4 linked regions of the Homo sapiens genome follow. The protein of the gene in region 2 purifies or fractionates together with the protein of the main gene of each other region. This does not show direct contact. Each region holds a gene or a part of one and is shown on either strand. Other genes may lie near its edges.

The links. The genes of interacting proteins can lie anywhere in the genome.
Region 1: the proteins of NPC1L1 (region 2) and ENTPD6 purify together in Homo sapiens (affinity purification with mass spectrometry; one large-scale study listed by BioGRID and IntAct). This does not show direct contact.
Region 3: the proteins of NPC1L1 (region 2) and TMEM33 purify together in Homo sapiens (affinity purification with mass spectrometry; one large-scale study listed by BioGRID and IntAct). This does not show direct contact.
Region 4: the proteins of NPC1L1 (region 2) and DIPK2A purify together in Homo sapiens (affinity purification with mass spectrometry; one large-scale study listed by BioGRID and IntAct). This does not show direct contact.

The regions. Positions count from the first base shown.
Region 1 is NC_000020.11:25,223,212-25,226,711, reverse strand, and holds part of ENTPD6 (ectonucleoside triphosphate diphosphohydrolase 6), read right to left. Parts: exon of another isoform or gene 2,623-3,500; intron 2,612-2,622; coding exon 2,555-2,611; intron 1,551-2,554; coding exon of another isoform or gene 1,508-1,550; coding exon 1,395-1,507; intron 1,214-1,394; coding exon 1,115-1,213; 3' UTR 1-1,114. UniProt on the Homo sapiens protein: Catalyzes the hydrolysis of nucleoside triphosphates and diphosphates in a calcium- or magnesium-dependent manner.
Region 2 is NC_000007.14:44,538,531-44,542,457, reverse strand, and holds the start of NPC1L1 (NPC1-like intracellular cholesterol transporter 1 isoform 2 precursor), read left to right. Parts: upstream 1-1,127; 5' UTR 1,128-1,198; coding exon 1,199-1,252; intron 1,253-2,115; coding exon 2,116-3,641; intron 3,642-3,927. UniProt on the Homo sapiens protein: Plays a major role in cholesterol homeostasis. Critical for the uptake of cholesterol across the plasma membrane of the intestinal enterocyte. Involved in plant sterol absorption, it transports sitosterol, although at lower rates than cholesterol.
Region 3 is NC_000004.12:41,945,429-41,948,928, forward strand, and holds part of TMEM33 (transmembrane protein 33), read left to right. Parts: intron 1-3,500. UniProt on the Homo sapiens protein: Acts as a regulator of the tubular endoplasmic reticulum (ER) network by modulating intracellular calcium homeostasis. Mechanistically, stimulates PKD2 calcium-dependent activity. Suppresses the RTN3/4-induced formation of the ER tubules.
Region 4 is NC_000003.12:143,974,823-143,978,322, reverse strand, and holds part of DIPK2A (divergent protein kinase domain 2A isoform a precursor), read right to left. Parts: intron 1-3,500. UniProt on the Homo sapiens protein: May play a role in cardiomyocyte proliferation through paracrine signaling and activation of the PPI3K-AKT-CDK7 signaling cascade.

The DNA.
Region 1 (3,500 bases), on a different chromosome or scaffold from region 2:
CTGTCAACCTTTTATTGGGAGTGGAACACATGAGGTTCAGCTCGTGCCGGGCACTGTACATTCACTGAAGCAGCTCAAGGGGCTCAGCCCCGACACTGACGCCACACTGAGCAGGATGCACGGCCCGGGGCTCACACTGTCCATGGAGGAGGTGGGGTCAGCCCGAGGTGGGCGGATGGTGGCCCGAGACACCGAGAGCTTGGTTCTGGGACTGTGGCTCAGCTGACCCGTGGCACAGCTGCACCTAAGACATGGCCCTGGCTAGGCGGGAACAGCTCACAGTAGCGATACATTCACAGGACACAGTTGGTGTCCAGAAAAGGGGGCTCAGAACACAGTTTCTACACAAGCACTTGGCACCCACACGACAGAGACGTCACTCAAGCAGCACAGCCACAAATAGTTTACAGCAGCTCATGCCCGGCATCCGCCCATGCTGGGAGACTCCCTGAAAGGTGGGCACCTGCCGTCTATGAGGAGGTGTCTCCCTCCATCATTAACCCCAAACCACACAATGTGTGAGGAGAGCAGGCCTCTGGGTGAACTCACACATTCATACCCAAGGAAGAGGCAAACACACTCAAGTCCAGAGTTCCCAGTGGTGCCGCCCAGACCTACTGTCCCGGGGGTGTTATGGCTGTCCCTCGGCTTCCCCAGAGCAGCCAGGACAGCCTGCACCGCCTCCCAGACTCTTGCAGGAAGGGGAGCTCTGCCCTGGGGAGGAAACTGACAGGCTGGGAGACAAGACTCCCATCGCAGGGACATGCACAGCAGCAGCCACAGCCCCGCGGACGGGGCATGGGGATGGGACAGGCAGGGAGCCACACTGCCCCCTCAGTGTGTGCCTGTGGTTCTGTCCTGGTCCTGCCCACTTGGAGCCCAGGCAGACAGGTGGCATTGAGCAGGGCCCAGGTCCAGACAGCCCTCTGGCCAGATGTGACTGGAAGAGGCTGATGCCAGGGCAGCACCAGGCCTTCTGCAAGTCCCAGAGCCAGTGTGCAGAAAGTGCCAGCACGGCCTGTGCTGTGGCTCCTCAGGATGAAGTCACGTCCAGGACAGGAGGGTTTATGCAGACACACAGACACTGCTGACGGGGACAGGGATGGCTCGGCCACTATGAGGCTGGACTCTTCTGTCTGTTCAGGGAGTCGATGTAATGAAAAATGGCCCCCAGAGCCCAGCTGGTCTCAACATTGTCAATTTTCCGAGTGAGCTTGAAAAGACAGAGAGGGAGAGGGGACCATCACACAGACAGGAAAGCCTTGTGCATCAGGAGGCTGTGGCTCCTTGGAAGCCAGGGATGGGCTGGGGGACATGACCCCAGCAACTGGAGAAGTGGTTCTAGGCCCCTCACTCCATAAAGGGGCTGGGGCGTGACCTGAGGGCACCCTTACCTTCAGCACTTTGCTCCTGGGAAAGCCGAACTCCTGGAGTAGCAGGCTGACGTAGGTGAGGTCCATGCATGAGAAGGGGCTGCTCTGCGGCTGTGTCTCCAGGGTCCGACACACTGGGGATGAGACACGTCCCTTCACGCTCCAGGTGACTCCCACCTGGGGGCGGAGGGGCAAGTGCAGACCCCAATTCCACCCACTACAGGCACCCGCTGGCTCCGCACTCCGGATTCACAGACAAGGCCGCAGCTGAGCGCAGAAGGCACCCAGTGCACAGCACAGGCAGGTGGGCGGCAACCCCGGCTGCCACTGGGTCTGGGCTCCAAGGGGATTTGCACGCCTGGTGTTAGGGTCATGGGCCAATGTCTCCCAAGCCACATTTCTACATCTAAGACCCTGGACACCTCTCCCAGGTGTCAAGCTGCATAAAACCTAAGCTTTCTGGGGAAAGAAAACACCAAAGCCAGCTCAGAACAATCCACTCCTGCTCTTGAGGAAGGACAAATCCACCAAGAGCTGTCCTGGGATTCTGCTCAAAGCCTTTTCCTGCTGTAGTTGTGGATACCCAGTGTCCATGGGCACAAATGGGAAAATGACACAAAAGCTTTAAAAAAGCCACTTTTGGGGGAGGGGAAGGGTAGTACTTTTTCTGGAAAGATGTACAAATTTGAGCTCTTTGGACCCACACATTGGGAAGGGCAACCAAGAGCAGGACATGTTCACCAAGGCTTGGCTGCTGGGCCAGGCGTGAAGGAGACAGTGGAGAGGCATAGTGTGTGGCACAGGGTCTGCTGGGCTGGTCACCTGCGACCCCGGGGACAGCCCTCCACCCCACATCCCAGGCTCCATTCTGTAGGGCCTTGGCTTCTTAAGGGTTGTGTGACAATCATGAACTTACTGGGACATCCCAGGGGAAATCACTCTTGGGGTTACCCTAGTAGCAGTAAAATGGCATCTGAGGAAGTGGAATCGAGGGACCCAGTTCCTCACGACCCCATGAGGGTGGGACAAGGACGGTGGTCCTTTCTCAGCTGGGGCCGAGGCCCCTGCCTGTGGCCATTGTTTAGGAGGGGCTACACCCAGGAGAGTCAGGGCCAGCGCCTGCGTCACGAGCATCACGGGGCGCCTGCCCCTGCTGAGATGGCCCCTGCAGCATCACTCACCGTACTTGGCTGCGATCTCGAAGTCCCCCACCACCAGGCTGCCTCCCTTCTCCGCATCTGTGGGAGACACAACACCCAGTCTGCAGGAGCACTGTGAGGTTGGCGATGCCACTGAGACGTGAGGCTGGCACGGGGAACGCCAGCCCAAGAGCCCCAAGGCACTGACTGGCTTCTGAGGCAGGCCCTCCAGCTGTAGGCGGCACTCACGTGCTCTGAGGACGGCTTCTGGGTGATGTGGTGTGGGGTGGGTTTGGGGGCTGAGAGGGTCACCCCACAACCCAACCCTGCAGTGTCCCCCGAGAAAGCTCACCAGGAACCCAGGACCCCAAATTGAGTAAAATTTTAAGTTAAGAAAAATAAAAGTAGAGAAATTGAAATGTTTCCTGAAGCCATAGAACTGAGCTCAGCAACAGTATTCTGGTATCAGTTTCCTAAATGTAAAAAAAAAAAAAAAAAAGTTCTTGAAAAATACACTGAGGGGTGGTTTATTGGTGGCCTTCCACCTTGACCACCCACCTTCCACCCAGGCCCAGTCAGTGGTAGCTTTGTCAGCACAGAGACCCGCCGGAGGCTGCAGGGCCCAGAGAGCCGGCACCGTGTCAGCTTATTTAAAACAGTAGTGTTCTTATCCGTACCACAGGCCATACATTCTGATGATCTCACCATGATAGTGACTCTGCAACCCCCTCCAGAGTTCCCACACAGCCTGACCACCACTAGCCTCAGCAAACTCTGAATACCTTTTTCCGCCCTAATCTGGCTTCCTGGGCTGTGCAGGGTGAGTCAGAGAGACTCCACATTCAGTGAGCTGATCCCTCCCATGGGTACAGGGCAGCCACCTGCAGGTCACAGGAGGCCTCCTGTAGCCAGGGCTGCAGGGTAGGGCAGAGTGGCTGAGTCTGAGACAACGTGGGCCAGTGCAAGGCAGGACCTGCCTTCCAGCAGG
Region 2 (3,927 bases):
TGGAGCTGTCACTCACAGGGGCAGGTCCTTGGCTGCTGACTGTCTTCCTCTCCACTATGGCTGTCTTGAGAACTTAGGGGTCAGCCTGACCCTGCCTTGGCCCCCTTCCTCTCAGCCTCTGTCTTCTCCTGCATGAGGCTGGGTGGCTCCCCTGTGAATCAGGCAGGGGTCCACAGAACACTAGAGACAGGTCCCTTCCTGCAGCTGTCTCCAGTAGGTGGCCACGCAGGAGATGTTCCCAACAAGCTGCCCTTATCTGCAGCTCAGCTTTGGTAATGGGGGCCCATTACCAAATGGGGGTAAAGGTCATGGCCCATCCTGGTGATAGTGAGAACCCAAGGTAGGCCTTGAAGATTCCTATCAGGAGGGAGCAGAAAGTGTGTACCACACCCCTGGGCCCAGGTGGAGCAGGGCTGCTGCTCAAGGCTCCCAGCCATGCTCTGTCCCTTGCTAGGGGTGACCGGTGGGACAGGCCTGGGCAAGGGACAAGAGGGAGAAGGTCGGGGGGAAGAGGGGATGAAGAGCAAAGTGAGCAAAGGAGAGTCTTCCACTATCTGGGGTCTCTGTCAACTGTCAGGCCCTAGAGTGAGCTGTTCTTTCCCTTTGCTTCCTGGAGGAGGGGACTTTTGTCACTGCGTCACTCCACCCTGCCTGCCCCTCCGTTATCAGGCTGTTAATATTAATTAACAACAGTTGCTAGGGATGACAGTGCAGAGGGTTCCTCTGAGCCCATTGCTGGCCCTGGTCCCAAGAGGGGGTAGGGCAGAGCTGGGGTCTGAGGCTGAGCCAGGGAGGGTGCGGAGGTTCCTCGGCCATGCTGAGCTCCTGAGGCCGGGTCCCAGCCAGTGCCTGGTCCCATCTGTGCCTCCAGGCCCTGGCACCAACTCCAGCAGTGTTAGGGGCTAATAGCGTGGTCTCTCCCCTAGCTGACTCAGCCCTCTGGCTTCGGTCGCTTTGGGAAGTGAGTGGAGACCCTAGCACCTGCGTGATGAGGCTCATCTAAAGCGGGGGCCTGTGGACTGGGGCCAAACAGTGGGAGTGGTGGATCATTAACCAGCAGGGCTCAGCCTCATTGGTCCCTAACCCAGTCAGGCCAGGGTTGTCATCGAAGGGGAGGAGGCTGCCTTAATGTGTGTTCAGCCCTTGGCTGTTCCTGAGGCCTGGCCTGGCTCCCCGCTGACCCCTTCCCAGACCTGGGATGGCGGAGGCCGGCCTGAGGGGCTGGCTGCTGTGGGCCCTGCTCCTGCGCTTGGTGAGTCCCAGGGCTTGGCTCCACCTCCCCTGCGGCCTCCAGTTAGGGACCCTGGGGCCAGCCGTGTACCAGGCGAGCGTTACTGGGTGACAGCAAGGGAGCCTCAGGGCCTGCGGGCTGGGCAAGTCTCTGGACACATGAGGGATGCCAGGCCCCACAGAGGAGGGGTGCAGGTGGAGGGTTTCCAGGTTACAGGCTTGAATGCACACAGGGGTGAAAGAGGCTGCTGGACTGGGGTGCTCCAAGTCCCTCCTGTCACTGGCCCTACTGTGGGGTCCAGGCCTGCAGTTGAGGGAGGTCTGAGGCAAGGAGGTGCTGGGATGGGGTTACCTGGTGAGCATCACCTAGGGAGGACTGAGCACTCTGGAGGCTGGGAGAAGATCCAGCGCTGGCACCTCTTAAGTTCCTCGCTTACTTTGTGTCTGGGAGGTGGGTGACAGCTTTTGGCCTCAAGCAGGTGGTGGTAGTGGTGGTGGGAGTCGGGGGGCCTCCTGAACAGACTCTCCATGAGAGACCCTGGCCTCTGGATGTGGTGTACAGTGTGGGGACTCAGGCTGACTTTGACGTGGGCAGAGCCCGGGACCTTGGAGTCAGCTTTGCCTCCTTACCCATCTCTGGCCTCTCCAGCATGACTTTCCTAAGCTGCAGGTCTATCAGGCCACCCCCAGGAAGAAAGGCCAGTGTTGTCACTCCAACACTGGCTGGCTGGCACATGCCTCCAGGAGGCTTCCTACTCCCCACACTCCCCGCTTCCCTGCCCCTGCTCCATGTCCTTCTTACCCTCACACCCTCCCTGGCTGCCTGCTGCCTGGATGGCACCCAGCTGTGTCAGGGCCCACGCGTGATGTTGCTGTGCTCTGCAGGCCCAGAGTGAGCCTTACACAACCATCCACCAGCCTGGCTACTGCGCCTTCTATGACGAATGTGGGAAGAACCCAGAGCTGTCTGGAAGCCTCATGACACTCTCCAACGTGTCCTGCCTGTCCAACACGCCGGCCCGCAAGATCACAGGTGATCACCTGATCCTATTACAGAAGATCTGCCCCCGCCTCTACACCGGCCCCAACACCCAAGCCTGCTGCTCCGCCAAGCAGCTGGTATCACTGGAAGCGAGTCTGTCGATCACCAAGGCCCTCCTCACCCGCTGCCCAGCCTGCTCTGACAATTTTGTGAACCTGCACTGCCACAACACGTGCAGCCCCAATCAGAGCCTCTTCATCAATGTGACCCGCGTGGCCCAGCTAGGGGCTGGACAACTCCCAGCTGTGGTGGCCTATGAGGCCTTCTACCAGCATAGCTTTGCCGAGCAGAGCTATGACTCCTGCAGCCGTGTGCGCGTCCCTGCAGCTGCCACGCTGGCTGTGGGCACCATGTGTGGCGTGTATGGCTCTGCCCTTTGCAATGCCCAGCGCTGGCTCAACTTCCAGGGAGACACAGGCAATGGTCTGGCCCCACTGGACATCACCTTCCACCTCTTGGAGCCTGGCCAGGCCGTGGGGAGTGGGATTCAGCCTCTGAATGAGGGGGTTGCACGTTGCAATGAGTCCCAAGGTGACGACGTGGCGACCTGCTCCTGCCAAGACTGTGCTGCATCCTGTCCTGCCATAGCCCGCCCCCAGGCCCTCGACTCCACCTTCTACCTGGGCCAGATGCCGGGCAGTCTGGTCCTCATCATCATCCTCTGCTCTGTCTTCGCTGTGGTCACCATCCTGCTTGTGGGATTCCGTGTGGCCCCCGCCAGGGACAAAAGCAAGATGGTGGACCCCAAGAAGGGCACCAGCCTCTCTGACAAGCTCAGCTTCTCCACCCACACCCTCCTTGGCCAGTTCTTCCAGGGCTGGGGCACGTGGGTGGCTTCGTGGCCTCTGACCATCTTGGTGCTATCTGTCATCCCGGTGGTGGCCTTGGCAGCGGGCCTGGTCTTTACAGAACTCACTACGGACCCCGTGGAGCTGTGGTCGGCCCCCAACAGCCAAGCCCGGAGTGAGAAAGCTTTCCATGACCAGCATTTCGGCCCCTTCTTCCGAACCAACCAGGTGATCCTGACGGCTCCTAACCGGTCCAGCTACAGGTATGACTCTCTGCTGCTGGGGCCCAAGAACTTCAGCGGAATCCTGGACCTGGACTTGCTGCTGGAGCTGCTAGAGCTGCAGGAGAGGCTGCGGCACCTCCAGGTATGGTCGCCCGAAGCACAGCGCAACATCTCCCTGCAGGACATCTGCTACGCCCCCCTCAATCCGGACAATACCAGTCTCTACGACTGCTGCATCAACAGCCTCCTGCAGTATTTCCAGAACAACCGCACGCTCCTGCTGCTCACAGCCAACCAGACACTGATGGGGCAGACCTCCCAAGTCGACTGGAAGGACCATTTTCTGTACTGTGCCAAGTGAGTCCATGGTGGGGCCCAAGCGAGGAGTGGGCTGGGGCTGGGGCTGGGCTGCCATGGCCTCCTGGGAACCTGGCCGGGCATACAGCTGGTCCTGAAGGACCAGAGGTAGCTATTCCTACGGCTCTGGCCTGGGGCCGCCCAGATGATTATCTCTGCCCCTCGTCCGGCCGCCATTTCCTTTGGTCAGAGTTCCTGCTCATGGCTGCAGGTTTGTGCGTGGCCATCGCTGGCCCTTCAACCCCGAGTCCACTCTGTCTTTCTGCAGATTTCTTGACATGTGGGA
Region 3 (3,500 bases), on a different chromosome or scaffold from region 2:
TGCTACCCAGATGATTGCTTTATCAATTTTTAGTTTTACAAGTAATGAGACATTACAGATAAAAGCTAAAATAGCATTTGACTATATGAATTCTTGCTGCAATTTTGTCCTCTTCCCAAAGGTGTAAGGAGTTTAATATGTGTCTATGTATGTAGTCCTTTAAAAATACTTATACAAATTTGTAGAACATATATATTATGGATGTGGAGTTTTGTTTGTTAATTTGTTTAGTTCTTATTTTACATCAAAGATGTTATTCTGGCTGGGCACAGTGGCTCATGCCTGTAATCCCAGCATTTTGGGAGGCCAAAGTGGGCAGATCACTTGAGGTCAGGAGTTCAAGACCAGCCTGACCAACATAGTGAAACCCTGTCTCTGTTAAAAATACAAAAATTAGCCAGGCATGGTGGTGCACACCTGTAATCCCAGCTACTCGGGAGGCTGAGACAGGAGAATTGTTTGAATCTGGGAGGTGGAAGTTGCAGTGAGCCCATATCACGTCACTGCACTGCAGCCTGGGCAACAGAGTGAGACTCTGTCTCACCAAAAAAAAAAAAAAAAAAGAAAAGGAAAAAAAAAAGTGTTATTCTGTACCTTTTTCCCACTTGTATGTTTTCATAACCTAATTGATTTGGCATATCCAGTTCTGTTTTTTTTTTTTTTTTAGCCGTATAACATTCCAACTTATCTCCTGATCATGGAATATGTTTCCAAATTTTCAGTTTTCCAAATATTGATGCAGTAAATATTTTTTACCTGCTTATACTTAATGCCAGTGTTTTCTTTAACATAGATACCAGAATTGATTTTGCTAGTACAAGCTAGGTGCCTTTTGTGTTTAATGGACCATGCTAAATTGTTCTTTAAAATGTCTGTATTACCTGTTTTTCATAATTTTGTTAGTTTGTAACAAATGTCCTTATTGATCATATAGTTATATTTTATAATTTTAAATGTACCTTGCCTTGATTAACTAGTAAAGTTTTCATGTACTTGACAGTTACTTCTTTCTATAGCAGTCTCTTCAAACTAAGAACAGAGTTTTATAGATTTCCTTATAAATATATATCTGTTTCATTCTTTTAAGTAGTGCTTTCTTCTGAGAACTCCAGGACTGGCTGGTGTTGCTTAAGTTGTATGGTCCCAACTAGATTTGATGCAGTTGTATTTGTAAATTAACTCTAAAACCTTGACCCTAAAATTTAATAAAAGCATCCTCTTATCCTAGAAGCTGAAAGCATATAAAAGAAAAGGGTAATGTAATCTGGGACAGCAGAAAAAGGGACAACATCAACATTCTAATATTTTTTCCATCATTTATAGGTTTTTCTTTCCACCTCTTTCTTTTGTGATCCTGATCTACACTTAGAAACTTTAATTATTAATTAGTAAGAGGAACTTTTTGCTCCCTTTTGTTATTCATTTTTCTCGGGTTTTTGTGTCACTTAATCCTGCTTTTGGGTCAGGATCACAGGTTCTGTGATTTGTTTCATGTAACTAGATGAAAGTTAAAATGGTAGATACCAGGCCGAGCACGGTGGCTCACAGCCTGTAAACCCAGCACTTTGGGAAGCCAAAGCTGGCAGAGCATGAGGTCAAGAGATCGAGACCATCCTGGCCAATGTGGTGAAACCCCGTCTCTACTAAAAATACAAAAATTAGCTGGGCCTGGTGGTGTGTGCCTGTAGTCCCAGCTACTCGGGAGGCTGAGGCAGGAGAATCGCTTGAACCCTGGAGGCAGAGGTTGCAGTGAGCCGAGATCGTGCCACTGCGCTCCAGCCTGGCGACAGACCAAGACTCCCTCTCAAAAAAAAAAAAAAAGATAGATACCGAGACTAGTTTTTTTGTATGGGTATAATTGATGTCTATATCCTGAAACCTCCAGATTCTGTTTAGTAAGCAAAATAATTTCTTATGCTCCTCTTAAATCAGATTAAAATAATTTTAATGAAATTCTGAGATGCCATGCAAACTTAGACAAAAACTTCACTTTGGAACTATAGTGAATTTTTTGTTAGGAGCACCAGGTTTTGACTGCGTTGGTACATTAATTCAATTGTGCTCCTTAAATGTTTAATTTAAACATTTATTTGTACAAACTTACCATCTTAATTTTTAAGATTACTGTAAAAAAGATGAGAATTTACCAGAAATGTTTAAATAGAGAAATAATTTTGTTTGAAAAATTAAAATCAGCTTATAAAGTGGTACTTAATTCCTATTAGGAAAAGCTGTTAATGCCTTAAGTAGGTAGTTTGAATATGACCTAAACAATAAAATTAAGAACAGTCTTACATTACTGCTATTCTTAATATGCTACCCTTTCTGGTATACACACAGTCTAATATTAGGAGGCTTTATCAAGTTACATTTGTGCCAGTAATGCTTCAAGCTCTGTATTTAAAAATTGATGCATTGTCTGAGTTTATCTTACACATGCGTTGCACATGTGTGCAAAGACAGGTAAAAGGATCATTGTGGCTTTTCTTCTAATTGACTGGAGCCACCCAAATATTCATTAGTACGGAGTTTGTTACATAATAGTCCAAGCATTAGATGGTATATTTGAAGCTGTAAAAAAGATTGCGGTAATTTATGTGTTGTGATATGGGATAATCACCAAGATATAATAAGTTAAACTTAGTTGTGTAGGGTGTTCTCCATTTATATTTAGTGGGGTGTATGTGTGTAAGGACATAGACGTTTCTGTCTCAGTTTTTTGGGAATGATAAACCATCTCTGTCCTAGAGTTGTTAAACAGATTTAGTGAATTATAAAGTGAGCACTATCAATGTTAGTCATTATATACACTTGTATATATACATTTCTGGAAGGACATATTCGAGATTGTGGTATAAGTTTGAGGAAGGGGCTAACTTGGATGATGGGAAACTTGTTTTTTAAGTGAATATTTTCTATTTATATTTTCTATGTTGTGTCTCTTACATTTTCACTTTAAAAAGATAAAAATTTGTCAAATTATTAGGGAAAATGGATGTTGCATTTGTTTAGTGGTAAGTTCGTAATCGTGTAAATTTTTTTTAATGAAAATGATACAATTTAGAAGAAAAGGCTAAAAAACCTAATAAAACACATTTGGCATCTTAATATATTTCTTCCAATTTAAAAAAATACAATTGTAATAATATGTGTAGTTTTATATTCTGCTTTTTTCAGAGTTGCTATGTAATTTTCATAACCAAGATTCTAGGTAGTTGCATATTAAATCCATTAAATAACCATAATATAAGTTGTTCAATTCTACTTCCTTACAGTTCACATTAGGTTGTTGCCACATTTTGTTTGTAGTTATTTCAGTGAATGTCTTAATTCAGATAGTTTTTCTTAGGGAAGAATTCCAGACCTGGTATTTCATAAACATATATATAATTCTTGGGATATTGTAATTGTGTTTTTTAACCAAGAACAATAATTAGTATAGGCTGTTTAGATTTACTGATGAGCCAGTGTAATTTTTTTGGTGGAGGGGAGTGTTTGTT
Region 4 (3,500 bases), on a different chromosome or scaffold from region 2:
AACCATTTACTAAAGTTCATCAAATGTATTAGAAAAATGCAGGATTTAAATTATAAGGCCATAATTTAACATATGGGTAATGAGTGAAAGCTGAAGAAAGAAAAAAATAGCATTCTGTGAAGAGTCAGCAGCAATGACAGAAAAATAGGAAGTAAGCCAGAGCCCACAAACCAAAAAAACAGAATAAAAACCAGTCTGACAATCCCCTGAGAAGCTGGACACCCATGTCCAGAAGACCTATAAAAACAAGCTTTCTATTTCCCAACATGTGTGAGAATATGTGCTAACCTATGCAATGGAAATATAAAGAATAGTTCAAAGACTAGACAAAAGTATACAAAGGACAAAATTCAAAATGGTCAAAAGATATGGATATGTCCAGAAACTAGTCCAGGATGTCAAATGACTTTGCTCTACTGATTCTGAAGTGATGCTTTCTTAAGGGCGATTGTCTGTTTCTAGGGTCTTTCTAAAATAAAAGTCCCCACCCCCTTTTTGGACTTGAGGTATCCAAAATTGTTTTATTATTTTTGTTTGATTATCTTGAAGAGCAATCAAAAGTGTCAATGGACTCTCAGATGAAAAGCCACAAAAAGTTCAAAAACTTACAAAATTTATTAGATTAAAAACTGCTCTACTAAGAACCATCTCTAATGTGTTCTGAAGCCGAAATCTAGGAAGACAGTTACTAAAGAAACAGCCAGTAAAGGAGAAGTAGGTGGTTCCTTAAACTGTTGTTTGAAAAGAAACTCCTGAAACAAAGTCTGGAACATCGTTTTGCACACTATTGCCTCACAAGATCCTTGGCTACCCTTAACTCCACATATTTCCCCTTAAAGGAAGGTTTTGGTTTTTGTTTTATTTCATGTGTGTAAAAATTTGGGGGTAGGAAGAAAGGCTTGAAAGAGAGCATCCCACTCCCAATCCCCTTTCAGAAGAGCTTAATTAAACCCACTCGTTAAAGTTCAAAAGAAAACAACAACAACAACAACAACAATAAAAACCAAATTTCTCAAGAGTTTGAAAGCCCCAGAATGTTGGAGCTGAAAAGGATCTAATCCAATAGCTTCATTTTATAAAGAAGGAAGTGAGTCCAATAGTAAAAATCTATCAACTTTTCTAAAGTACCGTTAGCTAAATAATCTTTTGTTTACTTCAAAAACTACATTTTCACCAGTGAACTTAAAAAATATGTTGTTCCCTATATAAATTACTTTTAAAGGCAAAAACAACATTCACTGAAAGTTTTCTACAAAAAATTATATCAAAGTAATAATGGAAAAAAATCAGTATAACTAAAGTATGGTTGATATTCAAAATCACCATTATTTTTAAGGTGATCCATACCCCAAATGAGCTTCAAAACAGCTGATCAAATGCACCAGGCAGTTAAAGTTACCTTTACTTTATTCAATATCTAACATTTATTGAATGCTTACAATTTACCAGATACTACGTGAAGTGCTTTGCATGTATTATATCATTTATAAGAATAGAAAAGCAAGCTTAAAAACCATAGCTTAATGATAGTCATATACTATAAAAATAAAGTAAATCCTATTAAAACCATGATTCAGAAAATTTAAGGCAAATGAAGTTCCACAAATAGTAACATTCCCAGCTCGTCCCCCTAAACAACAAAGAGCTTTCTCCATTTCCTACAAACAAGACCATCTTCACTACTTCCAGGTTATAAAGTCAGAGATTCTGTCTGAACTTCAACAAATCCAGACAGCATCTCTCTCTCTCTCTCTCTCTCTCTCTCTCACACACACACACACACACACACACTCTCCCTTTCTGTAAATTCAATAGGTTAAATACAAATACGATGGAAAATTTATCAACAATAACTTGTGATCTTGCCAATTACTTCAACAACTCAATTTTTGAATACTTCAAGATTCCTATTTACACAATATAAAAGTCAACATAGTTCCTCTCCTCCATTTTTTTTTTCATAGGATTACAGTATACCTGGCACTAAAATACACACATCTTAGTGAAGTAAAAATGTGACGACGAGGAAAGGGTATCAGAGTAGAAGATAAAGGTACTACTAGCATTATCTTGTTGCTTGATGTTTATAAACATTTTTTAGAAGATAATAATTCTATGGGTAAACTGTTGTAAACTAGTGAAACTATCCAACAATAAGAAGAAAGCCATACTCTCATGCCATTTCATATGGGGAAATTTATATCACAAATCTTTACAGCCTTACATAGATAAGGTATGTGTGTAAACATCTTAGACACTTAATGTCTTTCACCTCTCCTTTCAAGGAATAATAGCAACTTCAATTTTTTACTGTTTTTTCAAATCAGAAGAGGTGAGTTTAATGGATTAAATTCGTAAGTATTTTTCAGTTCTTAAACACCTTATCAAAAGAAATTTTTACATGCTTATTTTGAAGCATGCTTACGATACTGGAAGTTTTGTTAAGAATACTTGGATGAAGTCAGTTCAAAGACTTTTTTTTCCCTGAAGTTGTTAATTTTTGGACAATATAAGAAAAATCTAGTTTGTCACCAGCTGTCCAAAAATTCGACAAGTAGCTCCCTCTCCTGGAGGAAAAAAGTGAGTTCCTCTTCAAGCTGTTAAAACACTTGTACTCTTAAAAATATATTTTTTAATACATGAAGCAATAGACAGCCAAATCTGAGTTTTTCTGTATCAATTAATATCCCAGTATTACTGTAAACAGCTATAAACAGTTTTATAAAAACCTGTATAAATACTAAAAATGTAGTTTCCTAGCTAACAAAGGTAATGAACATCATGGTTTGACTTACTGTACAGCAACTTTTGTACTTGATCACAGAATGTTGAGATACCTTTCATTTTGGTGGTTTTATACAATCATCAAACCTCAAGTATATTGTTCAGACTTGTAAATTCACTAGCTTTTTCCAAAGATCAAGTGATTCTACAAAGAAAGCAGCGGCTCTCTGAAAACTCTTACTTAAAAATATCTTCTTCCTCTACTTGCTTGTTAATCAGGTTTTAAAAAAATTACATGCCTATATGACTGGCTGGTACTAAAGACCCCAAAATTATATTACACAGTATGTACTCAGCTATAATTATAATACATATATTAGTATTAGTACTATTCCTGGGAACTGGGTTGTGTAAATTAAAAATGTAATTTACAAACCTCACTCTAAAACGTGGAGACATGTTTCATCACATACTAAAAACAAATTCTTATCCTATGGCCCATGTGTTTACCCACTCAAAGTAGCTGTGTCATTATGTGTCATATATAAGAAAATAATTGTGCTTTTTCAAAAAAGGCTGTTTCATCACTAAAGATGAGAACAGATAAAGAGTAAGTTTGAGGGAAAAGTTAAACAGAAAACAAGATACACGCACACTTGACTATCTCAACTACAAAGTAAACTGAGAATGCCATGAGAAGTTCAAACTTAAAAAAATATAAAACCTTCCTGCACAAAGCACAAATTTACCTTAGTGTAAATCAGATGCCAAAGTTT